Linked DNA regions of Homo sapiens. The protein of the gene in region 2 interacts with the protein of the main gene of each other region in a pairwise test. Each region holds a gene or a part of one and is shown on either strand. Other genes may lie near its edges. The genes, in order: CRACR2A, ANKRD29, CABP2 and HLCS.

The links.
Region 1: the proteins of ANKRD29 (region 2) and CRACR2A interact in binary tests that used the Homo sapiens proteins (3 or more experiments, as listed by UniProt).
Region 3: the proteins of ANKRD29 (region 2) and CABP2 interact in binary tests that used the Homo sapiens proteins (3 or more experiments, as listed by UniProt).
Region 4: the proteins of ANKRD29 (region 2) and HLCS interact in binary tests that used the Homo sapiens proteins (3 or more experiments, as listed by UniProt).

Annotation. Positions count from the first base shown.
Region 1 is NC_000012.12:3,638,108-3,645,135, forward strand, and holds part of CRACR2A (EF-hand calcium-binding domain-containing protein 4B), read right to left. Parts: intron 6,534-7,028; coding exon 6,488-6,533; intron 3,732-6,487; coding exon 3,625-3,731; intron 2,673-3,624; coding exon of another isoform or gene 2,555-2,672; exon of another isoform or gene 2,262-2,554; intron 351-2,261; coding exon of another isoform or gene 348-350; coding exon 17-347; intron 1-16.
Region 2 is NC_000018.10:23,598,425-23,603,938, reverse strand, and holds the end of ANKRD29 (ankyrin repeat domain-containing protein 29), read left to right. Parts: intron 1-2,629; coding exon 2,630-2,713; 3' UTR 2,714-5,013; downstream 5,014-5,514.
Region 3 is NC_000011.10:67,520,446-67,528,113, reverse strand, and holds the start of CABP2 (calcium-binding protein 2), read left to right. Parts: upstream 1-4,667; 5' UTR 4,668-4,773; coding exon of another isoform or gene 4,774-4,787; coding exon 4,788-4,829; intron 4,830-5,397; coding exon 5,398-5,568; coding exon of another isoform or gene 5,569-5,572; intron 5,573-6,131; coding exon 6,132-6,162; intron 6,163-6,954; coding exon 6,955-7,089; intron 7,090-7,668.
Region 4 is NC_000021.9:36,963,650-36,970,917, forward strand, and holds the start of HLCS (biotin--protein ligase), read right to left. Parts: upstream 3,021-7,268; 5' UTR 2,990-3,020; coding exon 2,795-2,989; intron 2,744-2,794; exon of another isoform or gene 1-2,743. UniProt on the Homo sapiens protein: Biotin--protein ligase catalyzing the biotinylation of the 4 biotin-dependent carboxylases acetyl-CoA-carboxylase, pyruvate carboxylase, propionyl-CoA carboxylase, and methylcrotonyl-CoA carboxylase.

The DNA.
Region 1 (7,028 bases), on a different chromosome or scaffold from region 2:
TAGGCTGTGCCCTTACCTTACACAGGGCTTCTTTTCCAACAGGCTGCCCTCGGGGGGATGTGGGGGTGAGTTTCAAGGGTGGGGCCTCCGGGATTTGTCCCTGTACCCCCTGGTCAGAGACCTCTTCCTCTTCTGAGCATTTGCTCAGGGGTTGCTCAAAGCCACCATCCAGGAGCTGGGGCAGGGGGTCTTCTTCAACGGAGATGATTCTGCGGAGCGGCCGGGGGTACGGACCCCCAGGCCCTGGCTCCCCGGTTCCTGGCTCCTCTTCTGTTAGGGGATATCCACTCAGGCCCAGGGAGCTTCTCCTTGGGATGCCAAACACCTCCTCCTCCTCCTCTGACTGGCTACTGGGGCGGGGAAGAGAGAAGAGTTGGGAGGATTTCACAAAATATTTCAATACGGGCTGCATAACAGCTTTTGTGACGAACAGATACCCAAGGAGCATCACACCTTTGGACAAGAGCAGTCCGGGAGAGGGAAAAACAAACCAGCCAGCATTCTGCAGCTCATTCATTCAACACGCTTCCACTAAGTGCCTGCTGCCACTGCTGTGGCAGATGATGACAAAGATGATGATGATGATGACCAAGTATTAAGTAAAGATGCCATTTACAGATGGACATAATCCCTGTCCTCACAGAATACTTGATTTAGTGGGGGACTAAAGCAATAATGACACAAATAAATACATCCTTTACAAATTGTGAGACTGCTGTGAAGGAGAAGGAAAGGTTGTGAAGAAACGTGTCTCAGACTCAGATTTTAATAAAGCGCCCCCGATTAACATTAGCAGATGACCTTGGCTCTGCCCCCAGCGCCAGCCCTTACTCACTGTGTGTCCTTAGGTAGGACACTCCAACTCTTCAGACCTTGCTGTAAAACGTGGCCCATCTGCTCTATTCCCAAATAAGTCAATGCATAAAAACAGACATGTTTGCAAAACATCCTCAGCAGTGTGAGGGGTGCTGTTGCTTTGGGAGGGCCCCCCACCTCCAGACATAGCAGGTCTGCTGGCTCACAGGCAGCTTCCCCCTAGACAAGAGGCTTTGGGTCAGAAGAAAGCCAGGCAGAGCATCTCCATCCACCTCTCCTTCCTCTCCCTTTCTCTTCCCCTTTCTGTATCCCTAGAAGTCACAATCAGGAGTAAGTGGCTCAGAGGCCTAAATATCTTCTAGAAGCATTTGAGCACTAAGGGCAAGGAGAAGCTGTAGGCAGTGCAGGGAATCGGGGAACTGGATGTGGGGGTCAATGCAGGGTCTGTATTTTCAGTAGGTTTTGAGAGCAAAGGCCTCACAGAAATTGTCTTAAAGGAAGTTTGACAGGGAGGACCTTAAGTCCAGAATTGAAACACACACACACACACACACGCATGCAAGCATGCACACAGACTAGAAAAGAAAATGGAATGGGGATGAAGCAGTGGGGTGATAGAGCCAAAGGAGAAAGGAACTAAATGAAGGACACAGAATATGCAGAACAGAGAAATACACTTTCTTTTGCTCCCTAATTTAAAATATGTATTACTCTTAAAGATCAACAGTAGAAAGGAAAAAGAAAAAAAAATGCAGGTATCACCATCCTGAAATTAACTGCGATTCTGCAAGATAAATTACGATATAGTGCTTGCTTGAAGAAAGGGTGAATTAGTTTGGATTCCTTGATATGAAAAATAAAGGATTTGCAGCAATTAAAGCACCTTTCCTTTGACTTATAAAAACAGTTTTAAAAAAGCCAAATGTCTTCTTTCCAGCAAACTTCCTATATATTGCATCAAGCTTATTAAGTGCTTATTTGTTTAAGAACACAATTGGTATTCCCATCTACTTTTACTCTGCTTACACACACACAAGTGACTATTTGTATGTACACATGAGCAACTACGCATACACACACACAGAGCATGTTTTTTCAAAGGCTTTGCAACCAGAAAAGAAATAGTCACTTAAACAGGCATTAAAACAAAGCATTTCTTGGAAAAAGCTTTCTGTCTGGGAAATTCTCAAGCACTACTGCCATTCTGTAATACCTGCATCACGGCATGACTGAGTTCATTTTTGGTTTTACCACCAAGTGCTCTCTGCCATCCGTAGGGACAGCAGCTACTTTTGTCAAAGTCTGCATTAGAATTCAGGGCTCACAATTTGTTGCTTACTTGATTATTGTCTGCTTCTTCCACTCAACCAGAAATTCAATGACACAGAGGTAGGTCCATTTGGCTCACTACTGTATATCCAGCAAAGAGCACAGGACCTCACACATAGTAGACACTCAATAAATATTTATTAAGTGAGCATTTAATAATGGAGATTAATGGTAGGACCTCATGTCTAATTTATTTTTGGAGGCTTTACAGAACTCAAAAGAATGTCTGGTACACAGTAGGTAATCAGTAAACGTCTGCTGAATCAATCAATCAATCCATTCCATTCTGAGGAACCAACAGGCCAACCACTATTGCAGAGATTTGGCTCCCAAATTGTATCTCATTATTCAGCTATTTAGAACAAGAATTCATGATGATCAGGCCCAAAGGTTTTACTGATGAGCTGATTTACATCTCCAGAGTCACTTCCGCTTTGCATATCTTTTTCATTTCATGCTTGCAGTCTTCAAGGTCTCTCTGGGTCTGATACTGAAGAGTCGGGATGCCTCTATCTCTCTGTGGCCATCTATGTGGACACAGCACATGCCAAAATGAAGAGTGGGCAGGGGACTGGTTTGTCTCTCAATGAGCAATGAGCCAACCCTTGGGTACTCAAGCTCAATCATGTGCTGCCCAAGAGCAACAAAATGTGTTATGTTTGAGTTAATTAAATATAGGTCATGGAAACGATCTGTCAAGCACAAGCCCTAGCCTTGTCTGTAAAAGGAGTTAACTATTGGAGATTCTATTTGACAGTTTAATTAACCTTCATAGCCAATATAGTCATGTTCCTAAAAAACCAAGTGCATTGGCCGGGCACGGTGGCTCACACCTGTAATCCTAGCACTTTGGGAGGCCGAGGCGGGCAGATCACGAGGGCAGGAGTTCAAGACCAGCCTGGCCAACATGGAGAAATCCCATCTTTACTAAAAATACAAAAATTAGATGGGCGTGGTGGCGCACCTCTGTAATCCCAGCTACTTGGGAGGCTGAGGCAGGAGAATCGCTTGAACCTGGGAGGCAAAGGTTGCAGTGAGCCGAGATTGCACCACTGCACTCCAGCCTGGGCAACAAAGCAAGACTCTGTCTCAAAAAACAACAACAACAAAAACCCCGAAACCAAGTGCATCCATTCTGCTCAGCAGACAGCAGTGTAGTGCTACCCAGCTACACACTCCCTCCCTCTCCCTTGACCCCTCTCCTCTGCTGCTCTGCAGTCCCTCTCTGCAAACACACAGTAGGGTGGGGCAGCCTCAGAAGACAATGGTCTGTCCTGTGGGGTTTGCTCTGCACATTCCCCCTCTGGCTTAGATGTCAGAACAGGGAGGGGCATGTGTTCCAAGATTTGAGGGGAGTGAGTGCAGCTGACCTCAGTTTCCGCACCTCTCAAGGGGTCAGCAGGCACTGAGTATGGGCCCAGAGCCAGCTCCCAATGAGCCTGAGAGGAATGAAGGGATGAGCAAGTGGAGATGACTTACCTCCTAAGAATCCCTCTGCTGTCCACATATTTGCCTATCACAGAGCCAGATCTCTTTTTCCAACTTGCCCTGGAAGCAGCTGTGTTTGCCTTGGCTGCCTTATTTTTCTGTAGAAACACAAAATGTCCTCAGATCCATGCCTATTTGCTCCGATGTTTGAACAGAAAAGGGCTCATGGTTCCCACCTCATAGACTAGGCTCTACACAAAACTCTGAAAGGAGTAGGCAGTGTTCTGGTCTCCCTGTTAGCGTCTAGCCACTCTTCCCTTTTGCCATCATCCCCTACCAGAATCCCTCCATCTCCTTTCCAGTCAGCTAATCAAATGAACAAGTGCACAGTTTACAGCCTGGGGCCCATCATGCTATTCACAGGAGCACTGATGATTTGTAAAAGGAAAAGAAGAGATAAGTGTTTAATGCATATTTTCTATACATATTTCTAATGCATCTAGAAAATATACATTAAACACTTATCTCTTCTGAAAAAATATATCTATATTTTTGAAACAGGGTCTTGCTCTGTCTTCCAGGTCAGAGTGCAATGGCATGATCACAGCGCACTGCAGCCTCAAACTCCTGCACTCAAGCAATCCTCTAGCCTCAGCCTCCTGGGTAGCTAGGATTATAGGCGCCCTACCATGCCTGGCTAATTTTCTCATTTTTTGTGGAGATGGACTCTTGCTATGTTGTCCAGGCTGGTCTTGAATTCTTGGCCTTAAGTGATCCTCCTGTCTCACTCTCCCAAAGTATTGGGATTACAGGAGTGAGCCACCACGCCTGGTCAGATAGAAAAAAGAAAAAATATTTACAGGCATAAAAAACTCTGTGAATCTTTAATTCACACTCTTCTGTCTGGCTCCAATCCCTTTTTATTTCTAAAGCCTCAGATGTAATGAGAAAGTAACTAGCCAGGAGGATCAATTAACTCAGTGTTCTGTCCTGAGCTAGCATAAGGTAGTTCAGCTCTTTGGTGGAAGTAGGCTGGGTGTAGATAAACTACTAACATCTGTAACACAGGACCTGGGTGGAGCAGGGGTTTACAACCCCCTTTGCCTATGCTCCCTGACAGATGTCTTCCAGGAGATGAGGCGGGGGAGTTAGACTGCAGGAAATCTCTCTCGTTAATTAGCCATCCCATGATTCCCAGTGATCCTTAATGAGAGGAGGGGCTGCAATGCTCCCAGAGCCCCTGAAGGTATGGCTATGCTGATTCTAAATCAATCTTCAATTCTTATTGAATTTATCCCTTTCTTTGATTCCCCACAGAAGTTCTTAATTCCATACCCCTTTCAAAGCAGAATGAGTTTGGCAGGTAAAGGGAAGGGAGGTGAAGGGATTCGGGTGACATTTGGTTGGAAGTTTTAAAATAAATTCAGTGTTACTTCTAAAACAATTATAACCATTATCATCATCAAACAAACATGTGTAGGCTCAAGTCTTGCTCTAATAGTACACACAGGTGGGTGGCAGAGATGTTTGCTGCCAGTCAGCAATGGAAAAGAAACTGTGGCGTAATGCAGTCCCTCAGGGATTTGCAATTATAAAGCAGGTCAGATCTAATTTAGGGCAAACCAATTGCCTTCTGCTGACCATATCTAGGTCACCGTTCAGCTAAGGGTGCAATCCACATCATCCCCTTTCCAAGAATCTTTCTCAAAGATTCCTGTTGTATGGAGGGGGGATGGGAATTCACTTTCCTCGCGTGACAGCGGAGGTCATGGTCCAAGGCAGTAAATGACTTGCCCAGGGACCCACATGAAATTCATAGGATGGTAACCCTGATAATTAGGAAGTCACATCAATCAATTTGGCCTTCATTTTTCTTCCCTTCAAAGCACCCAGTGGCTCCTGTCTAAAGGGAAAGATGAGTAAGAACATGGAATCCTAGGTTTTGGCCAATGTGGTCCACAGTGAAGACCTTCAAATAAATATAGGATTTCATGTCGTTTAGGAAAGTGTGTGTGTGTATATATATATATGTACATACATATACACACACATATACACATACATACATATATATGCACACAGACTATATATATATAGTTTATATATATATTTATATAATATATATTATATATATATTTATATTATATATAAATATATATAATATATATTATATATTTATATTATATATATTATATATATTTATATTAATATATAATATATATTATATATATTTATATTATATATATATATATAAACTGCAGAATGCACTTTGGGGTTCACAGCTGGGAATTTCATCCGTTAATACTAGAGGTGGAGAGGGCAGTCCAGATGACCTCAAAGTGCTTAGCAGTTTTGTGATTCTACGACTCATATATATATATATATATGCACACACTACATATATATAGAGAGAGAGACATGGTACTCAGGTATGGAAGAGTAGGGGTCCCTATAGGATAGAGAAAAATTGTTCATAAAATCAAGTATGAAAACAGTGAAATACACATTTCTAATGTGGTCTATGACAGTATAAAATGCAAAATTTTCATCGAGATAAAAATTTAAATGAAGAAGAACGGTGTGAGCATTTTGGTTTAGAAGTGATAATGACATTTCAACTGCGCCATCTCATGGATAGAACTATCATTTCTGCATCCAAGAAATGTGCGACCCTCCCAAATATTTCAGTCTTGTTGTGCCAAGAGGAAACTGCATTACTCTGTGGAAAATTAACACGTTGTTACCCAGTAGGCCACCCTGAATTTTTATTATTTGCAAAACGTTTTCATGCCGTCATCCTGCCAAATAGATCCCGAGTGTCAGGACATTGCTGGGCCAGTCTCGACATGGATCTGGCTGTCCAGTGGACCACAGCCCTTGGTCCCCCACAGGTAAGGGAGAACTGGCCAATTACCTGAAAACATATGTCCCGTTCATCCCGAAGGTGCTTGTTCCTTTCCCTGTGGATGGTAAAGGGGAATCTATTCAAACATGGAGTTTGCAGTTGACAGATCCAACGGCAGCCAATTTGCTATTCAGATGGGTGCAGGGGAAGGTGTGGTATGGAAGACAGGGGAGTCTGTGGAATCTCCTTCCATAGGGATGTGATTAATGGTAGAGGATAGTTTTTGTGTACAGATAGGTACACACAGATGTGGGGGATAGACTGAATGCCCTTGAGACACCCGTGGCCCATCAGGATTATGCATGGCCTCTCTTATTATTAGGGGCACTGCCTACAGAGGGGACCTCAGCATTCCAGCTCCACCTGGGAGCTTCCTGTTGGGCTCCCTCTTTCTTTCTCTCTGTGCACCATTCATTCATTCATTCACTCATGCATGCATGCACGCATTCACTCAAATGTCTCCTGAGCACCCACTGCATGTCAGGCACTCTTCTAGCCATCAAGGTCACACCAATGACCAAAACAAAAAGTTCCTGCCTCACAGAACTTG
Region 2 (5,514 bases):
CTCGGGAGGTAGAGGTTGCAGTGAGCCGAGATGGCACCACTGCACTCCAGCCTGGGCAACAGAGTGAGACTCCGTCTTAAAAAAAAAAAAAAGAAGTAAACATGGCAGATTAGCATCCAAGATGGAGTTGCATTAGCCTCCACAGTCCCTGTGCAGTTGTTTGAATTGCAAAGTGAACCTGCCACTTTTTTCATAGATCACTATTTTTACTTGAAAGAACAAGGTATCTACCACTATGACCTTAACAGCTTCCCAAAACTTAAAGGCTTTTCTGATGGATCAGTTTTTTTGTTTGTTTGTTTGTGAGATGGAGTCTCTCTCACTATCACTCAGGCTGGAGTGCAGTGGCGTGATCTCAGCTCACTGCAACCTCCGCCTCCCAGGTTCAAGGGATTCTCCTGCCTCAGCCTCCTGAGTAGCTGGGATTACAGGCATGTGCCACCACGCCCAGCTAATTTTTGTATTTTTAGTGGAGACAGGTTTTTGCCATATTGGCCAGGCTGGTCTTAAACTTGTGACCTCAGGTGATCCACTTGCCTTGGCCTCCCAAAGTGCTGGGATTACAGGCGTGAGCCACCACGCCCAGCCAGAATGTGAGTTTTTGATATTGCACAATGAAATGTGCCAACATTCTACAAACTCAGTGAACTGATATTTTCCAAATGAGCAGTGCATGTTACAAACCATGCATAGGTAAAAGATCCAACTATAAATAGATAAACCTGTGGGTTTTAAAGTTCATTGGTATGGTTTCAAATCCCACATTGCATTTAACCTTTAAGAAACTACCATTTGTTGAGTATTGATGTGGCATCAGAGAATAATATCCACAGCAATCCAAAAAGACTGTTAAAATACTCCTTCCTTTTCCAGCTACATATCTGTGTGAAGCTTAATTTTCTTTATATCCTTCTACCAAAACAGCATATCACAATAGACAGGATACAGATGGAGATATGAGAATCCAATTGTATTCTGTTAAGCTACACATGAAAGAAATATGTAAAGCTGTTGAGCAGTGCTACTCTTCTGAGAATTTTTACTTGTTTTTGAAAATTTAATTTTTCATAACTATATTAACTTGGATTTATTATTTTTAGTGAATTAATAAATATATTTTTAAAATTTTCTCAGTTTTAATTTCTTTTTTTTTTCTTTTTGAAAATATTTTCTTTCTAAATAATAGAGATGAGGTTTCACTATGTTGCCCAGGCTGGTCTCCAACTCCTGAGCTCAAGTGGTCCTCTCACCTCAGCCTCTCAAAGTGCTAGCATTACAGGTGTGAGCCACTGCGCATAGCCCTCAGCTTTCATTTTTAATAAGTTAAAAACAAAATTTGTTAGACTCTTCAGTAATTTTTGAGAGTATAAAGGGTCCTGAAACCAACAGGTTTGAGAGCCACTTCCACATCACACCTGTTGTCAATGGTAGGGACTGGTTCACTAGATGCCTAATGGATGTATCTCAGCAGCAATGTGAAAAGAAAGGCCTTCGAGTGATACTGAGTAAGGTGGAAGGTGTTAGCCACCAATGCTCTTCTTTCCCGGGTGTCTCTTATGCTCTGGAGGTTTCCTATCTCTGCCTTCTCATCAAAAGATATCTGGCCCGGGCGCGGTGGCTCACACCTGTAATCCCAGCACCTTGGGAGGCGGAGGCGGGCGGATCACTTGAGGTCAGGAGTTCAAGACCAGCCTGGCTAAATGGCGAAACCCCATCTCTACTAAAAATACAAAATTCAGCCGAGCATGGTGGCACATGCCTGTAGTCCCAGCCACTCGGGAGGCTGAGGCAGGAGAATTGCTTGAACCCAGGAGGCAGAGATTGCAGTGAGCCGAGGTCACACCACTGCACTCCAGCCTGGGTGACAAAGTGAGACTCCATCTCAAAAAACAAAAAAAAAGACACCTGTGCTGAGTCCTGACTCAGTCCCAAGTCCTTAGTGGGCAGACTACCTCATGTCATACATTAATAAATATAAGGTAGGCTGGGCACGGTGGCTGATGCCTGTAATCCCAACACTTTGGAAGCTGAGGCAGAAGGATCACTTAAACCGAGGAGTTCAAGACCAGCTGGGGCAACATGGCAAACCCCATCTCTGGAAATTAGCCGAGCATAGTGGTGCACATCTGTGGTCCCAGCTACTCGGGAGGCTGAGGTGGGAGGATCATTTGAGCTGGGGAGGTCAACGCTGCAGTGAGCCATGATTGCAACACTGCACTCCAGCCTGGGTGACAGAGCAAGACCCTGTCTCAAAAAATAATAATAATAAAATACATATAAGGTATAACATTTAATTTGACCGGTACTTATTGAGCACATTTTAGACATGCTGGGCATTGTGCTGGAGATAAGGATACAATGATTAATTAGATCTGGACCCTTCCCCCTAAGAGATTACAGTCTAGTAAGGGATCTGGCTGGAAAATGTCTCTAAGAATGAGATAAGGATATAACAAGTAATATTTATACATTTAAAGAAGATTTGTAATACCTTTATATAAAAGAGTGAGTCCAGTGTGGATTTTTTTCATTAGTGAAGGAGAAAGAGTGGGTCAAATGCCCCTCTTTGGAGTCCCTAAAACCACACCAGCTATGGGGATTCACTAATGCCCATCTTCTCTTCTTTCAGGCCAATGAACTTCCGGCAGAACTAACCAAAAATGAACGTATATTGCGTCTCCTGAGAAGTAAAGAAGGTCCCAGAAAGAGCTAACTTAGCTCCATATTTGACAGAAAGATAGAAAGCTTAACCACATTGTCCAAAAAGAAATTGCATTTCAAGCAGTGTTGGAAATTCTTTTATGAAAAAAAAAGATGCCCAGAATGCCCATCCTGTGGGTCCCTGACAAAGAAGAGCTACGCTCTGTGCACGAAGTCAAGAACCAAACAGCTCAGGGACCCTCTTGCCCCTTCACCATGGACTTCTCATGGTGTCCTGTAACTCATCTCCCGGGGGGCCTGGCATGTTCACAGATTCCACAGAAACTCATTTTCAACAATGCTAACTTGGACCTGTCAGTTAAACTCTAAGGTGGACAGGGTTCTCAGTACTAAGCAAGGAGACAGAATGCTTTGTTCCTTTAAAAGACTGAAAAGCTGACCTTCAATGGATTGAGGCACTTTTGCTTTTGTGTTAAATGTAGATGTGCTAAAATATATAGATCTATCATATTTTACCTACATATGTATGTCATTCCAGTATAAAACATTCTCCTCTACCCAAGAACCATAGCCATGATTGTTATAAATCAATGAAGTGTAAACATACATTATTAAAAAACCACTTCTGACATTCCATTATGTGCTATTCAAAGATGGACTATTGAACTATAGAAAAGACAGACTGTGCATTTGTTCGTTGATCCTCATCTTATTCCTGACATGTAAAAATCAATTTTACGTAGAGTCAACATTGTAGGTAGGTTAAAATACCAGTGGCAAATTTGGAAATTCAGAAACTTATAAACCACGAGAAATATATAGGCTTGTCTCTTTGGTCTTTTATTTTGGCTCTATTGTTGGGAATCTATTTCCTATTCTATAAGTAAGTATACCTAACATGCTGTGGAATCTTGAGTTTCCAACACCGTGCTGCTTGATAGAATGACTTTGAGGTCCTTGGATAAAATGTGATATATGCAAGTACAGTATGTTGCTATTACTATTGCAGGAATATAAATAATAAAAGACTGTTATTAGCACTTAGTAAGTCTTCATCTATGCATGTTTTTGAGTTGACTGATTCCAAGAATGAAATATGAGGTTTATTGAATTATTCCTTTGAAAGGGATCAAAACTTATATTCAATGCACTTTATAATTAATGGTGTCTAAATGCCTCAGTCAGTGCCTAACTGCACATACAAAAATAAAACCTTCTTTCTGTAATCTACCAAAATAAACGCAATGGTATTTCTGCTATTTAAACACATCTTTAGCTTATTTCTTCATGTTCTGCTCTGGTTTTCAGTCAGTGTCTATGTAAAGACACTTTTAGAGGAAAATGTTGTAATCCCAAAAGAATTTTTGTTTAACCAACTTTCAGAGTTACTAAAAGGATTATCTTTAATTCAGTAAATAATAGAATATAATCTTCAAAATTAGAAGATATTCTCTTAAAATTTATAACAATTAATGCAACAAAAATCAGCATATTTTGATAAATGTCTCAAGCAAATGAGCAACTCACAGGCCCCACAGGTGCCTACAGCCTGACCAGCTATACAAAAAGCCTGCAACCTGATTCTAGGATAAAATATTAGAAAGCTCTCTGTTGCTAAAACATCCAGATATAAACATTTTGGTGGCTAAAATCAATGCCATTTCCTCATTGACATTCTTTTATTCAGCAAATTTGTACAAATATACATTTTCTCCTGTGCGAATTTCAAAAAGCTATATTCATTTTGAAGAGGAAAATAATATGGCATTAAATGCTTTGTATTTTCCCCTTAGTTAGCCCTTATGGCAAAAATAGTTGCTAATCACTGATACAAAGCAAAACGTTATGGGTACTGATAACAAAGTTCCAAAAGCCAAAATGGGATGAATCACAAACTTACTGTTTTTCACTAAAACATGTAATTGGCCTATTACATCAATAGTTTTAAGTGGGTAATGTTCTTGAACAATATTAGAGCCATAAAATTGAAGCCAGTAGCTTGAACAATATGGAGGCCTTCTTACTGTAGGGAAGAGGTGTCTAGCTTAGAAGGATCACATTTGATCTAGATGAGATTACCCATAGCAGGGAAAATGAATCATCACCTACCAAAGACTGTACGGAAAGGTGTGTTATTTTCAAAATTGCATTTTAGTTTGCACACATGTAAATGATTATTCTATGTTAATCTAATTGACAATTCAGTTAGCTCCGCATCCTAAGACTTAAAACTAGCAATTCCTATGCAAATCATCTGCTTAACTGAACTACAAACGTTTTTCATTAATTCATTCTTTGATGACATATTCCATGTTATATAATAATTCAAAATAAAGTTAATATACTACCCCATTTGCCTTTGCTGCTTTTTTCTTTTTGTTTTTAATCAAGAGTTATTGCTATGTGATTTTTAGTAGCATGGAATTTTAGGGTGAATAATTCAACTCTGTAAATATATTGATATTTGGGACCCTAAATAGATATTTAAACTTTATTTTAGTAATGGACCTATGATTTCATTATCTCTGCTGTAGAGAATGAAATGATTCCAAAAAGTTTTCATTCAGAAAAGAATTCTTGGGACAGTTATTTAAGATGCTGAAAATAGAAAATTTTCTGATTTGTATTATTTATGATGCTCCTGGCCCTTTAGTCCTTTGCAATAACTTTCTCTTGTGAAGTAGCTGGTGGTTTTGCAGAACTGTTGGTGTAGGAGACAATAATTTGCAGCAGTAACATCAGGAATATGGAGATTTACAGGAACATCCTGGCTTCCATCTGCTCCATCCACCCTCTGCCGCCACAAGAAAGCTACGTCTCTTCATAAATCCCACACTGAGACACCTACTCAGA
Region 3 (7,668 bases), on a different chromosome or scaffold from region 2:
TAATCTCAACACTTTGGGAGGCCAAGGCAGGAGGATTGCTTGAGGCCAGGAATTCAAGACTAGCCTGGGAAGCATAACAAGATGTCATCTCTGCAATAAATAAATAAAATGGCTGGGCATGGTGCCACATGCCTATAGTGCCAGCTACTCAGAAGTCTGAGAGAAAGATTGCTTGAGCCCAGGAGGTCAAGGCTGTAGTAAGCCATGAGCCACGATTGTACCACTGCACTCCAGCCTGGGTGACAGAGTGAGATCCTGTCTCAAAACACACATACACACACACACACACACACACACGACCTTCACCAGCAGTCCATCCTCCCAGCCATCTATCCACTTCCATCTATCTCTCTATCCATCTAAACCCTCATCTACCCAATCATCCATCAATCCATCAATCAAATATTCAATAGCCAGTCCATCAAGACATTCATCTATCCATTTGTCCACCTATTCATCCAACTACCCATTTACCCATATGATCGTCGGCCACCTGTCTATACATCCATCTTCCATTCACCCATCCATCTATCCAACCCTCTACCCAACCAACTATCTATGCAATCATCCATCCATCCATTTACCAATCATTGCACCACCAGCCCATCAAATCACCTACCCATCCTTCCAGCCAGCCAGCCATTCACCTGTCCATCCATCCAACTTCTCATCTACTAACCCAACTATCCATCCTCCGGTCCATCCATTCATCTATCCATCCATCTGTCCATTTAAACACCAGTTCATCAAATTATCCACCCATCCATCCAACCACCCATTTTACCCAACCAACCATCCTTCTACCCATCCTTCCCTCTGTCTACCCATTAGTCAAACCCCTGATCCACCCATCCTGGACACTGGAGCCAGGACCCCAGCTTGGCTAAGTCAGGCTGGGCAAGTTGAGGGCACCAAGATGAGAGCTCCAGGATGCTGCTGATTGAACACAAGCAGGGGGATCTCCAAGCCAGGCTTTCTCCTCCACTTAGACACAAGGCCTTTGCTCCCTGACTGAAAACTTTTTTACCCCCTATACTCTGAGTGGTTACAGACCCCACTGTTTTGGATTATACTTTGGGACATACATTTCTCACCATTTTCCACTTTCAAAGATGGTTCTTTAGACCATTCATCACGTGTGGTGCCCACCACGTTCTGCACCTTCCTATGTGCCAGGAACCTGCCAGGTCCTGTCATCTAATTTCCACAATGGCACTGGGAGGCAGATGCTAGGTCAACCTCCACTTTTCAGATGACGAAACTGAGGCTCAAAGAGGTGACATACCTTTCCCAGGGTGACACGGTGTGTGCATGGGGGAACCTAGGCCTGCCGGCCCTTTCTGTGGTCTTGCAGAGGAGAATTTCTGTCTCCGATGAATGTTTTCAGAGACGTTACCGCCTGGGAAACCAGGCCGCTCCTGCTCTCCATGTGCAGAGGTGGGACTGAAGGACACTGAAGGCTGAAGCAATGGGAATGATCACAACCAGCCTTTCCACTCACTTCTCAACCCCGGCCTGTCCTCAGATGTGGAGGCTTTCCTCTGTCTGTGAGGCCACCCCCTCCCTTTGCTCAGCCATTCCCATCATCCTCTGCTCTTGGCTAGCATGTCAGTTCCTCAACCCCATCAAGCAAGGCCCTCCCTCTTTTTTTTTTTTTTCTTTCTTTCTTTCAAGACAGAGTCTCAGTCTGTCACCCAGGCTGGAGTGCAGTGGGGCGATCTCGGCTCACTGCAACCTCCACCTCCCAGGTTCAAGTGATTCTCATACCCCAGCCTCCCGAGTAGCTGGTATTACAGGCATGCGCCACCACGCCAGCTAATTTTTGTATTTTTAGTAGAGATGGGGTTTTGCCATGTTGGCCAGGATGATCTCAAATTCCTGACCTCAAATGATGCGCCTGCCTTGGCCTCCCATGGTGTTGGGATTACAGGCGTGAGCCACCACGCCCGGCCAAGTCCTCCCTCCTGAGAACCTTGGCCCTTCCTGCACTTCCCTGGCCACTGTCATTCTGGTTTGCTGAATAGGCATCTCCCAGCAGGTGAAAGGTTCCAGGATGTAGGGACTAGTTCCAGCACCCAGGAAGGTACAGAGCAGGGGCCGGACAAACGTTTGCTGCAGATTCAGCCTCTCAAAAATTTTCTCTGACCTCCTGCCACCTATACCCTCTCCAGAGGCCACTAGCCCCTTCCTCCCTCCCAAGGGCCTCCATCCAACCCACCTGCCAGGTTCCAGCTCCTGGGGCACTCCAAGTTCAAGGCTGATCCGTGCCAGGGACCCTGGCTCTCTCCCAGGGCCAGGCACAGGTTAAACATTGATAGGCAATGCCTGCAGCATTGCCTTATCCCCTCACCTCCTCCATGAAGCCTCCCTGATGCCTGGGCCAAGGACCCCAAGTACTTGGAGACTGTCTGGTGGCTCTTTTCCTGGTTAGACATGCCTGAGAGTGGGCTTCTCTGGACAGATGGGGTCTGTCACATAGCCCCAGAAGCTGGCCCAGCCAGCCTCAGCTGTTTGCTGAGGGAATACATGAATAGATGGCCGCATGTGGCTGAGAGAGGCCAGAGCCACCAGCTCAGGTGGCAGCACCTAGTGGGATCTGGTTCCCTTAGACAAAGGCCAGTGTGGGGGACAGATGAATAAATCATGAGGGGCCTGGAATGGAGCCGGGGCAGGATGATGACCTCATTCTGGGAGTTGAAGAGCGGGCAGCTGGGTGGGGAGTGGGCTGGGGTCATGGCAAGGAAGCCTGAGAGGCCAGCAGGGGCTGCCCGGCCCACCTCCACCCCTTTTCCTTGAGAAGCAAGAGGTTGAAGGTCAGCAGGACCAGGTGGAGGTCCTGGCAGAACGCAGGGAGGTGGGCAATGCAGAGGGACCCTGGGGAGGAGAGGGGGCTAGCACAGAGGGACCCTGGGGAGGAGGGAGGGAAGGAGGGGGCTAGCACAGAGGGACCCTGGGGAGGAGGGAGGGAAGGAGGGGGCAGCACAGAGGGACCCTGGGGAGGAGGGAGGGAGGCAGGGAGGTGGGCAGCACAGACGGACCCTAGGGCTCTGGGCTGGGGAGATGGGGAAGGCCTTTCCAGAATTCTGGAGCTCTCCTGGGAGCGGGATGGTGGGGAGAATAGGAAGAGCAAGGAAGGACAGACAGAAAGACCAATGCAAGAAAGGACCTTGCAGCAACAGAGGGAAGGAGCCAGCAGAGAGATGGGCTGAGTGGGTCAGAGACGGCAGAGACACCACTGGATCCAGACTGACAGAGATGGCGGCGAGTCAGAGGGGATGGAGACGGGGCTGCAGGCAAAACAGACACAGAGGCAGAGGGGGCACAGAGGGGCAGGCGGTGAGATGGAAACTGAGCAAGGAGGTGTGTGGGGCATCAGGTGCGCGTGAGCCAGAGAGATGCAGGCAGAACACTGCGGGGGAGGAGGCCAAAGGCAGGCAGGAGGGCCGACCACTGGGGCCACAAGGATGATCAGGTGGAGCCCCGGGCACAGTCTGTGACCAGCATGAGGGGCTTCACCAGGCTGACAGGGCCACACGAGGGGCCACGGGGAGCTAGGGAGGATACAAGACTCTGGGGACACGGGGCTCTCCCAGTTTATGGAGGAAGGGACAGAAAGAAGAGTAGCAGGGACCCAGGCCACACCTGTGGCTGCCCACAAGACCACTCTCCCGCAGGACTGGGGAGGCCGGACGGAGCAGCGTCCCTCAGCCAGGAGGAGGTACCAAGCCCTCATCTCCATGGCCCAGCCCCAGGGCCCAGCAGAGGGCAGCCTCCCAACGGGGGACCCCAGCCCCTCTGAGGGCACTCCAGGAACCAGCCAGGCCCCTGGCAGCCCAGCAGCCACCCGGCGACGAGAGCTTCTCCGGGAGCTCGAGGCCCAGGTGCAGGCAGCCTACGGGCAGGTAATGCGGGCAGGGGTATGAGGGGACCAGGAACAAAGAGCAGGGACCCCACACCCCAACTGGGGGCCCCGGAGGACAGACCCAGGACTTAGTCCAGGGAGGGGACCAGGAGGCAGAGTCCAATGGGAGACTCTCTGAGGTCGGCAGGGCCGGGGTGGCTTCCCTTCCCAATCTCCACCCTCACCGAGCCCTGTCACTGCCCACAGCACATAGGCGGTTCCCTTCTGCTCCTCATCCAAGGGCGGGGCACCAGTCCAGGCAGGGGGAGCCAAGTGCAAGCAATTGGGGCTACCCCGAGGTGAGGAGCCCAGGGCCCAGCTGGGGTCCTGGCAGGGAGAGGCAGGGGCTTCCTGGGCTGAGCCAAGTGGCTGCCTCTTTCTGGGAGGCTGTGTGGGAAGGCCCGCGTGTCCATACCAACCGGAATCTGTGCCATTCGGAGGGCCCAGCCCACCCTGGCACACTGCACGCCTGCCTTCCTCCTCCTGGGACCCAGGCCCTGCTTCTGAAGACATTAAATCTCCCCTGATTGGGAGAGATTAGAGGCAGGGGTTGGGGGAGGGTGCTGGAGAAGGGGCGTCTGGAAGACCCTCAGGAGGCAGTCTGGGGAGGCTGTGCTCTCCAGGGGGCCTTGGGCCCAAGTGGCTCCCCTCAGCAGCGGAGACGCTCAAAGATAATCCCGGATTAGGACCCAAGCCCCAGGCCCAAGTCCCCCGCCTGCCCACCCGCCCCCGATCTTCCCCACAAAACCCCAGGAAAATCCCCGGCAGTACTCCCAGGCTCTCATCGGGAGCAGCTGGGGGCTGGCAGGAGTCCTCAGGCAGCAGCATCCGCCGAGGCCCACCCGGGCCACCCCCGGGGTTCCAGGCCTGGCATGGTTCAGGGCCCATGGGGAACTGTGCCAAGCGGCCCTGGCGCCGGGGCCCTAAGGTAGGAGGGGTCAGGGGAGAAACCCAGGCCAGGAGGCTGGAATGGACCCTGAGGGTCAGATGGGATGGGCAGAGCCCTCCGAGGGCCGGGCGGGGTTGGGGGCTGCCCACTGCCCCAGGTGGAGATTTTTTTCCTGGAAGCCACAGCCTCTGGCCATCCTGATCTTGGCTCCCACCGACCTCTGGGTCTCCCCTGCCAGGCTCCAGGTCCCCCAGCTGCCCGTCCAGCTGCCCCATCCCGGCTGCAGGTCCCCGCTCTCTGCTAGCCAGCCTCCATCTAGGAGACAGAGCTGGGCACAAGGTCCCTCTCTGCCGCTGGCTTTCTCAGTGGCCTTGGCCAAGTCTCTTGCCTTTTCTGGTCCTCAGTTTGCCCAACAGAACAGTTAGAGGATTGACCCTTTCTGCCTAAAGAGTTCACGGGTGAGGGTCCTCTCTCTACCCCCCAGCCCCTTCCCTACTGTCCCATGCCGGGCTCCAAAGACAGGAGCAGCTGGTGAGAGGAGTGGGGAGGGCTATCAGGCCCAGAGCTCAGCGGCCACTGCCCCAGCTCACGGCCGGCTCTGCTGCAGGACCCCTTGCAGTGGCTCGGCTCCCCACCAAGGGGCTCCTGCCCCAGCCCCAGCTCCAGCCCCAAGGAGCAGGGGGACCCCGCGCCAGGCGTCCAGGGCTACTCGGTGCTCAACAGCCTGGTGGGGCCTGCCTGCATCTTCCTGCGGCCCAGCATTGCCGCCACCCAACTCGTATGTACGGCCACCCGCCCGCCAGCCTGCCTGCCCTTGCCCCTCTCCCACCAGCTCACCTGCCCTTGCCCCTCGCACTCCAGCCCACCTACCCTTGCCCCTCGCTTTGCCTCTCCTGGAGCTAGGGGGAAGAGGATTGAGTGGGGACATCAGAGCAAAGGTACACAGATCTGGGGTGGGGGTGCAGAGAGGGGAGAGAGCAATGACTCTAGAAATGGAAGAGAGATCAACAGTGACATTGAGGCTGGCGGGACCAAGTCTGAGGTTCTGCCCAAACCCCAGATCCACCACCAGCAAAGGGAGCCCCCTGCCCCAGAAGAGGGTGATGGAGTAGGTGAGGACGGCCCAAGGAGTGACCTAGGCCAGAAGCAGGGAAGGGGGCACCCGGTTACCCAGGCCAGTGAGTAGGATGGGGTGGGAACCAGGGCCGAGCAATCAGACAGACACAGGCCCTGCGTGTGCGTGTTGGATTGTGGGGCTGGGTGGGGAGCCCCGGGAAGCAAGAAGGAAGGGCACAGTCATCAGTAGGAGCAGGGAATTCCTAACCCCTCTGTGCCCTTCAGGACCGGGAGCTGCGGCCCGAGGAGATTGAAGGTAAAGGGTTGGAGAAGGAACTGGTTCCCTGAAGGGGAGGTGGCATGGGGGGCATGGGGTGGGGACACAGGGTTGGGGGGGCATCGGGTGGGGGCCTCAGTGTTTCCAGGAGGAAGTGGGAGCAAGAAGGCTGCAGGGGACCAGTTTAGGGAAATGGGGACAAGACTGAGCAGGGAGGGGATGACAGACCCCCACCCAGCTGTCATTCCTTGGTCTCACTCACCAGGCAGGTGACAGGGCCCCTTTTATATTTGTTCATTCAGCTGACACTTCCTGGGTGCCCACTGTGTGCCTGGCCCTGGCTGAGCACTGGGAAACATGGCCAGCTAGACAGATATGGCCCGTGCCCTCTGGAGACCAACGTCAATTAGTCAGCTACAAGTACAAATGGTGCATGTGCTCTCCAGGAAAGGGACAAATGGGCCGGGGGAGGCCACATGTAGAGGGATGGCTTCCTTTAGTAGGTGACATAGGACCAAAGAGGAAGGGGAAGAGTGAGGAAATCTCCAAGAGGTCAGAATTTGTTTCCCCCACTTTCTTTCTTTCTTCCTTTTTGAAAAATTTCACTGCTGTATCCCCAGTGCCTAGAGCAGAGCTTGGCACATAGTAGATGCTCCTCAAATATTTGCTGAAAGAACAAATAACAGGAACAGCACGTGCAAAGGCCCCGAGGCAGCAAAGAGAATCTGATGTTCAGAAGGAGGGATGATTGGACCAAGGGAGAAGGGTAGGCGGGTCCAGGCCAGGATCAGGGGGTTGTGGGGGAAGGACTGACCCCACCCTGCCTGGCAGAGCTGCAGGTCGCCTTCCAGGAGTTTGACCGAGACCGGGACGGCTACATTGGCTGCCGGGAGCTGGGTGCCTGCATGCGGACCCTGGGCTACATGCCCACCGAGATGGAGCTCATCGAGATCTCACAACAAATCAGTATGTGCCTCGGACCCATCCCCATCCCCAGTCCTCCAGATGCCCCCGCTGGGCCCATGAAGCCAAGCAGTCCAGGTACACAGGTGACTGCACAGGCTGTCCCCAGAGCCCATGACCTTGGTCATTCTCAAGGCAAGCTCTCTGCCTCTGGAGAATCTCACCAGCTTCTAGGAGGTGGGCACAGCAAGGACTGTGATCCTCATTCTGCAGATGAGGCAACTGAATGGCTAAGTGACTTGTCTAAGGTCACACAGCAAGTTCCTTGGAGCCAGGACTTGAACCCAACCGAAGAGTTCAGGAAAATTAAGGAAAGTTCCAAGAAGTTTTTTGGTTTTTTTGTTTGTTTGTTTTTTGTTTTTTGTTTTTTGTTTAGATGGGGTCTTTTTCTGTCACCCAGGAGTGACAATGGCGCTATCTCGGCTCACTGCAACATCTGCCTCCTGGGTTCAAGCAATTCTCCTGCCTCAGCCTCCTGAGTAGCTGGGATTACAGGCACCTGCCACCATGCCCAGCTAATTTTTGTATTTTTAGTGGAGACGGGGTTTCACCATGTTAGTCAGGCTGGTCTCGAACTCCTGA
Region 4 (7,268 bases), on a different chromosome or scaffold from region 2:
GCTAAGGCAGGAGAATCATTTGAACCCGGGAGGCAGAAGTTGCGGGGAGCCGAGATCGTGCCATTGCACTCTAGCCTGGGCAACAAGAGCAAAACTCCATCTCAAAAAAAAAGTATGTCCACTTTATCCAAGCATAGAATGTGTACATTAAACAGACAAAAAGCTTGATACTGCCAATTTGTATAAACTGTCTTTGGTTAAACTTATCAATTGATTGTAGGGCATTCAATTATAAACACACATATTCAGTATTCATGCATTTGATTTTAAGTGTATAACATATGAGAACACGCCAGGCTTGGTGGCTCACACCTGTAATCCCAGCACTTTGGGAGGCCAAGGTGGGCGGATCACCTGAGGTCAGGAGTTTGAGACCAGCCTGGCCAACACTTTGGTGAAACCCTGTCTCTACTAAAAATACAAAAATTAGCCAGGCGTGGTGGCTCATGCCTGTAATCCCAGCTACTCAGGACGCCAAAGGAGGAGAATCACTTGAACCTGGGAGGTGGAGATTGCAGTGAGCGGAGATCGCGCCACTGCACTCCAGCCTGGGTGACAGAATGAGATCCATCTCAACATATGGGCATGAGATTCAGGTGTGTCCTTATTTCAGCCCAAGTAGACTGAGGTATCCCTCAAAAGTAGACCCAAGCAGACTGAGATATCCACCAAATCATCAACCTGATCATATTTTAAATCTCAAAATAACAGTAGCCAACCACAAATAAATGGTCAAGCTTTCCACCTGTAGACCTTCAACATCACAGCTTAAACCCAACAACTATTAAATTTACTATTTCAGGTCAAGCTGCTATGCTAAACAGTCTCATTTCCTAATAAGAAAAAGATACGAACTAGAATAGGAACTGTGATTTAAAGGCTACAGGGATGCAGAGCATGGCCATCCCATCTAGTCTGGAAAACTAGGAAATGACGCAGCAATATCTAACCAAATCTGTAGGCAAAGCTTACTGTGCAGAGTGACAGAGCAGAGTTACAGAATCCATGAAAGCACCAGGCCACTCCTACTCCGGCCTGCACAGGTAGGCAAGGGCTGAAAATCACTAGTTATGGTTAGTGTAGTTAACAGAAGGCCAGCGGAGTCATGAAAATGTTCAAAAGTAAAACTGTCCAAGAAAATCAGACATTCCCATCTCCATGTTTTTATATGTCCAAAATTTCTATTCTGACTTAAATCCTAAATGTAATTGATCCAATTTGGAAACTACTACAAAAAGCTCACCCCTCAATTTTTTGCCATTTTATTGAGTTATCTTTCTCAATCAGGTTAATTCCCAACGCTCTAAGCCATACATTGTATGTAATGCATGAACTTCTTCCCCTTTTGTCTGGGTAGTGTCAGTTATGTGGAGGTGGTACTAGTTATTTGCATAACTAGTACCTTGGGGGACCTGAGAAAACAGTCATTCATATTCAGTGTGACATAATACATATATGGTACTAACAAGAAAGAGTATTTTTTATTTGCTAGTGGCACAATTTCAACCCATATCTAAGCACAGCCTCCAGGCAATGTTCAAACCTGAGATAAGATTCAATTCCCCACAGGGGCTTTACGGTGTGACATATGCAGAAAACGTCATTTTAGTGCTAAAAGTGAGGCAATATTCCAGAAAACAGAGGAAAGGGACAAGAAACAGATTAAAAGCAAAACACGTTTAAATATTAATGAGAACAATGCTACCGATGTCCATGAAATTTTGTGCAGTACTGCACTGTGAAGCTAAGCCCATTTCCAAAAACAGCTGAATGGAAAGATCTATTGTTCCCTTTACAGCAAGGCAGCAGACTTTTTACAGAGATTAATTGACTGGCCCAAGTCACAAGGTAGGTGACAGAGTGGGCTGAACACGTAACCACCATCCTAAGCACTGGGTCAAAAAAAACAAAGGCTGACTGTCAACTGAAATTTAAAAGACGCAAAGACCATCAGTCGGGTGCCCAAGTTGGTGAATGATGCAACCAACTGACAGAAGATGGAGAGGGAAAAGGGCAGTTTTTGTAAATTTGGGGACATCTGACAAAAAGCTGATGACACAGGTGGGAGTTTTTTGTTTGGGATTTTTTTTTTTTTTTCTTAAGACAGGGTCTTGCTTTGTCACCCAGACTGGAGTGCAATGGCTCAATCATAGCTCACTGTAGCTTCAAACTCCGGGGCTCAAGTGAACCTCCCGGGATCAAGTGACCCTCCCGCCTCACCCTCCAGAGTAGCTGGGACTACAGGCGCGTGCCACCACGCCGACCTAAGTGTTTTTTTTGTTTTGTTTTTTGTAGAGAGGGGTCTAGCTATGTTGCCCAGGCTGGTCTCCATCTCCTGGGCTCAAAGCTGTCCTTCCTCCTAGGCCTCCCAGAGTGCAGGGATTACAGGCATAAGCCACCGCTCCCGGCCCGCCACAGCTGTCTCTCCTGGTTCACGGTCACCCAAACGCCGGCTCGAAGTGTGGGAGAGGAGGTTGGGGGCGACCCCAGGTGGGCACTGCTGGCGTCCGGCTGTCAATCCACAGCTCACGTCCTCACAGGTGCGCGCCTAGAGTCACGCGTCCAGCACCGCCCGGCTGGCCGGGAAGAGGCGACCGGGTCCGTGGTCCGAGTCCCGCACCTCCGGCCTCTCTCTGGGCCCCGGGGCAACAGCCCCTCCCGGGCCGCACAGGCCGCACTGAGGGCGCCACTCCGGGGCTCCCGAACTCCCGGGCTCCCGGCGGGGACGAGGCGCAGGGACGGGGGCACTTCCGGCTCGCGGGGCCCGGGTCGCCCGCCCGCCCGACCCGCCCACCTGGCTGTCGCTGACGCAGAAGACGCGGCCGCCACGGCTCAGGCACACGCGGGCGCCCGGGGGCTGCGCGGCCGCGCCGCAGAAGGTGAAGGAACAGCGCGAGGCACGCAGCCGCCGCACCGTGGCGCGCACGAGCTCAGCCGGCCGGCGACCCCAGCGCGCCCACAGGTACAGGTAGCACAGCGTGATGAGCATGGCCGCGCCGCCGGCAGGGCGAGCCCGCCTTGCCCGCCCGCCCCAGCGCCCCAGGCCCGGCCCCGCCCCGGCCGGAAGGGCCGCGCCGCCCCCCCGGGCCAGGCGGCGCGGGGGTGGGGACGGCGGGGGAGGCGGGGACCCGGAAGGTGACGCGGGCAACTGGAGGCTGCGGCGGGAGGGGCGGGGGGGGGTGAGGCCGCGCCCGGCTGTGTGATGGGGAGCTCCGGAGGCCGCGCCCAGGGCTGGTGGCGGCGGCGAGGGGCAGCGCTGGGGCGGGGGGTGTGCACCGGGGTCAGGGGACGCCGGGGCTGCACCCGGAGAGGGGGCTCGAGGGAGTGGAGGCCGGGGTGCGGGGCCGCGCCAGGGCTGAGGAGTGGGATGGGTATGTTGTGGATGCGGGGGAGGGGAGGCTCCAGTGGCTGCCCGACCTGTTTAAGCCAAGTCCGGCCTCCCTTCCTTGGAGGGGTGGGAGGCGGATTGAGGAGGGGGCTCTGCCTATGTTCATAGCTGCCAAGGCCAACCTTTACTAACCAGCAGCACACCGGGAGTCCCAGAGCGCTCCACAGCCGCTACCCAGTCGACTTGGGAAAATAAGATAAGGCCGTTTTTATTAAATTATACTAAGCCTTCATGCAAAAGATTTTAAGGTCAATCACATACATTCACGGGATGCAATAATGTTTTTTTAAATAAGGACAGGAAACAGAAATTGAAGACAGATAAGCACCAAGAAGGCTGCCTCTAAAAAGGCTGTGCCAGGAAGGCTCCCTATGGTGTTCTTGCTACATGTGGGTCAACAGTTTGACTGTAAGCATCCTAACACCAGTGGGAAAAGGAAAACATCACCATGATTTGGTGTTCTTGTCTCCAAGGGAAGCATAATTAGTCCTGACACAGAGGCTTCTCCCATAGAACCTCATTTCTTTAAAAGGCATTATGTAAAGAACGTGTTCTGAACAGCTGCGAAGCACAGCAAAGAATTCCATCCAGTGGCTTCCTATTCTGGCCCTCGCTGAAAATAGGTGGCAAGATGCAGCAAAAGCAATCATGTACACCACGTCCATGTCTTAATCTAAGGATAGTTTTTGTTTGTTTGTTTTTGAGACAGTCTCTCTCTGTCACCCAGGCTGGAGTGCAGTGGTGCAATCTCGGCTCACTGCAAGCTCTGCCTCCTGGGTTCAAGCGATTCTCCTGCCTCAGCCTCCCGAGTAGCTGGGATTACAGGTGCCCGTCACCATGCCTGGCTAACTTTTGTATTTTTAGTAGAGACAGGGTTTCACCACGTTGGCCAGGGTGGTCTCGAACTCCTGACCTCAGGTGATCCACCCGCCTCTGCCTCCCAAAGTGCTGGGATTACAGGCGTGAACCACCGCGCCCAGCTAGGATAGATTTTTTTTAAGAGACAAGGTTTCGTTCTGTCGCCCAGGCTGGAGTGCCGTGGCATAATCACAGCTCTCTGCAGCTTCGAACTCTGAGCTGAAGTGATCTTCCTGGCCACCATGCCCAGCTAATTTTTTAGAAATTATTTTTCATAGAGACAGGGTCTCGCTGTGTCGCCCAGGCTGGTCTCAAACTCCTGGTCTCGAGCAGTCAAACTCCTGCCTGGATCTCCCAAAGTGCTGGGATTACAAGTTTGAGCCATGGCGCCTAGCCATAAAGATAGATTTTTAAAGTACCTTGGCCATTTGTTCATCTGCTTTAATATAGCTGCATAGAACACCCACTCCCAGAACTTCAGACTTTTGGTTAGATAACATAGTATATTTTCCCCCTTGCATATAGCGATAGATTTTTAAAAGAGAGAAAATCCAAAAAGAAATAACTGGGCTTAAAAGCAAGCATCTCTGTGGACCAGAAATAGAAGAAAAACAAAGTGATAAACAGGACTAAAGCCATATCCTACACTTCTCTACAGGACAGTGGCAGCCGGAAAGTGGGTTCCTGCATGGTAACAAGACCTTAAAATTGTGTCACTGGAGAAGGACGTGCAGTTCCCGCTGAGGAGAGACTTGGCCACTCCAGGACAACACAGGACTACAAGTCAGGAATTTGAAGATGAAAAGTGCTCAACAGTGATAAATCCTAAATGTTTCACTGAACAACCTTTCAGATAGCCTTCTTGAAGTTTGCTGAATTATGGCTATAAGGACCACTCCCCACCCCTGCTAGGTATGGAGAGGTCATCTCCTCTATCTGAAGGTGACCAACATCTCCAGTTTTTCCAAATTCCCTAAGGGTTTTGAGACCACACCTTCCCACAGGTACTCTAACTCCACCTGGCCAATAGGAATTTTCTAGGTTTACCCTTAGGTGTTTCGAGATATGGTCTCAGAATACATCATGGGAAAATTACATTTTGGGGTCAATCCTGTATACCAATTCTAGGTTAAAAGCATGGGGACCACCATGGTTCAACATGAGCTGACCCTTGCATTGAAGAGTACTGATACCATTCATGCCTGGGGAAGGAATAGAGGGAGGAAGATATGAAGGGCACAGTGAGAAGTGAAACAGTCACATAACAAGCTCTGTTTATGATCCCGCCCTAAAATGATTTCATTTTGCAAAGGTCAAGGATAGAGTTGAGTTTCATCACCCCTATATAACAAAGGAATAGGGGAAGGATGCAAAAATAATACACCAAGGGATATTAATGTGTATGCACCTGATCCTCATCCTGTAGTCCCTCACTGCTCAAAGTGTGGTCCTTAGAGCAGCAGCAGCAGCATCACTTGGAAGCTCGCAAGAAAAGCGGAATCCTAGGCCCCACCCAACCCCAAATCAGCGTCTGCATTTTGACAAAATCCCAGGAGACTCACAAACACATTAAAGTTAGAGAAGCACTGCTAACATCTTCCTCTGTCATTCCCTGGGTCTGGGCTACTCTAGACTCTAATAAGACATTTCCAAAATGATGTGGAAAATAAGACCACAGACTAGGGATTTTTTTTTTTTTTTTTAGATGAAGTCTCACTTGCCCAGGTTGGAGTGCAGCGCGATCTCAGCTCACTGCAACGTCCGCCTCCCAAGTTCAAGTGATTCTCCTGCCTCAGCCTCCCGAGTAGCTGGGATTACAAGCACATGCCACCACACCTGGCTAATTTGTGTATTTTTAGTAGAGATGGGGTTTCACCATGTTGGCCAGGCTGGTCTCAAACTCCTAACCTCAGGTGATCGTCCCACCTCAGCCTCCCAACGTGCTGGGATTACAGGCGTGAGCCACCGCGCCCGGTCAGACTAGGGATTTAGAAGCAAGACTTTGTCATTTATAAGAACACTGCAGAAAGGAACAAGAATGACCCAGCTAGCCACTGAAGACCACCTCTGAAACCCATCAACATGACCGGCTTTCTATAGGAAAAGTCTCCACAGACTCAAAAAGTCTCTAGTTTCTTGCCCTTAGGAAGGCATGCCCTGGGAATAATAGTTTGGGGACAAGAGAGAGTAGAGTGTTTACTGTCCTATCCCCCATTAAATACATGGCAGAACTTCCCCAGGGAAAGCCTATCATACTGACATTAACTCAGTACCTGTTTGAACTTGGAGAGCATTCAGAATTCTCATCAGTCAAATGGCCAGAGCTGAGAAGGATAGCTTGTTTTGTTTGTTTTTGAGACAGGGTCTTGCTATGTCACCCAGGCTGGAGGGCAGTGGTGCAATCCCGACTCACTGCAGCCTCGACCTCGTGGGCTCAAGCAATCCTCCCTCCTCAGTTTCCCAAAGTGTTGGGATTACAGGCATGAGCCACCACACCTGGCTAATTTTTGTATTTTTTGTAGAGACAAGGTTTTACCCTGTTGCCCAGGCTGGTTTCCAACTCCTGAGCTCAAGCCATCTGCCCACCTTAGCCTCCCAAAGTTGTGGGATTACAGGCACATGCCACCACACCTGGCTAATTTTTATATTTTTTTGTAGAGACAGGATTTTGCCATGTTGCCCAGGCTTGTCTCGAACTCCTGGATTCAAGCAATCTACCCGCCTCGGCCTCCCAAAGTACCGGGATTACAAGCGTGAGCCACCGTGCCCAGCCTGGGATACTTTCTAAGAACCAAGGAACTATGTAGAAAATCTTCGCCGGGCACAGTGGCTCACGCCTATAATCCCAGCACTTTGGGAGGCCAAGATGGGCAGATCACGAGGTCAGGAGATCGAGACCATCCTGGCTAACACAGTGAAACCCCGTCTCTATTAAAAAATACAAAAAAGTTAGCCAGGCGTGGTGGCGGGCGCCTGTAATCCCAGCTACTGAGGAGGCTGAGGCAGGAGAATGGCGTGAACC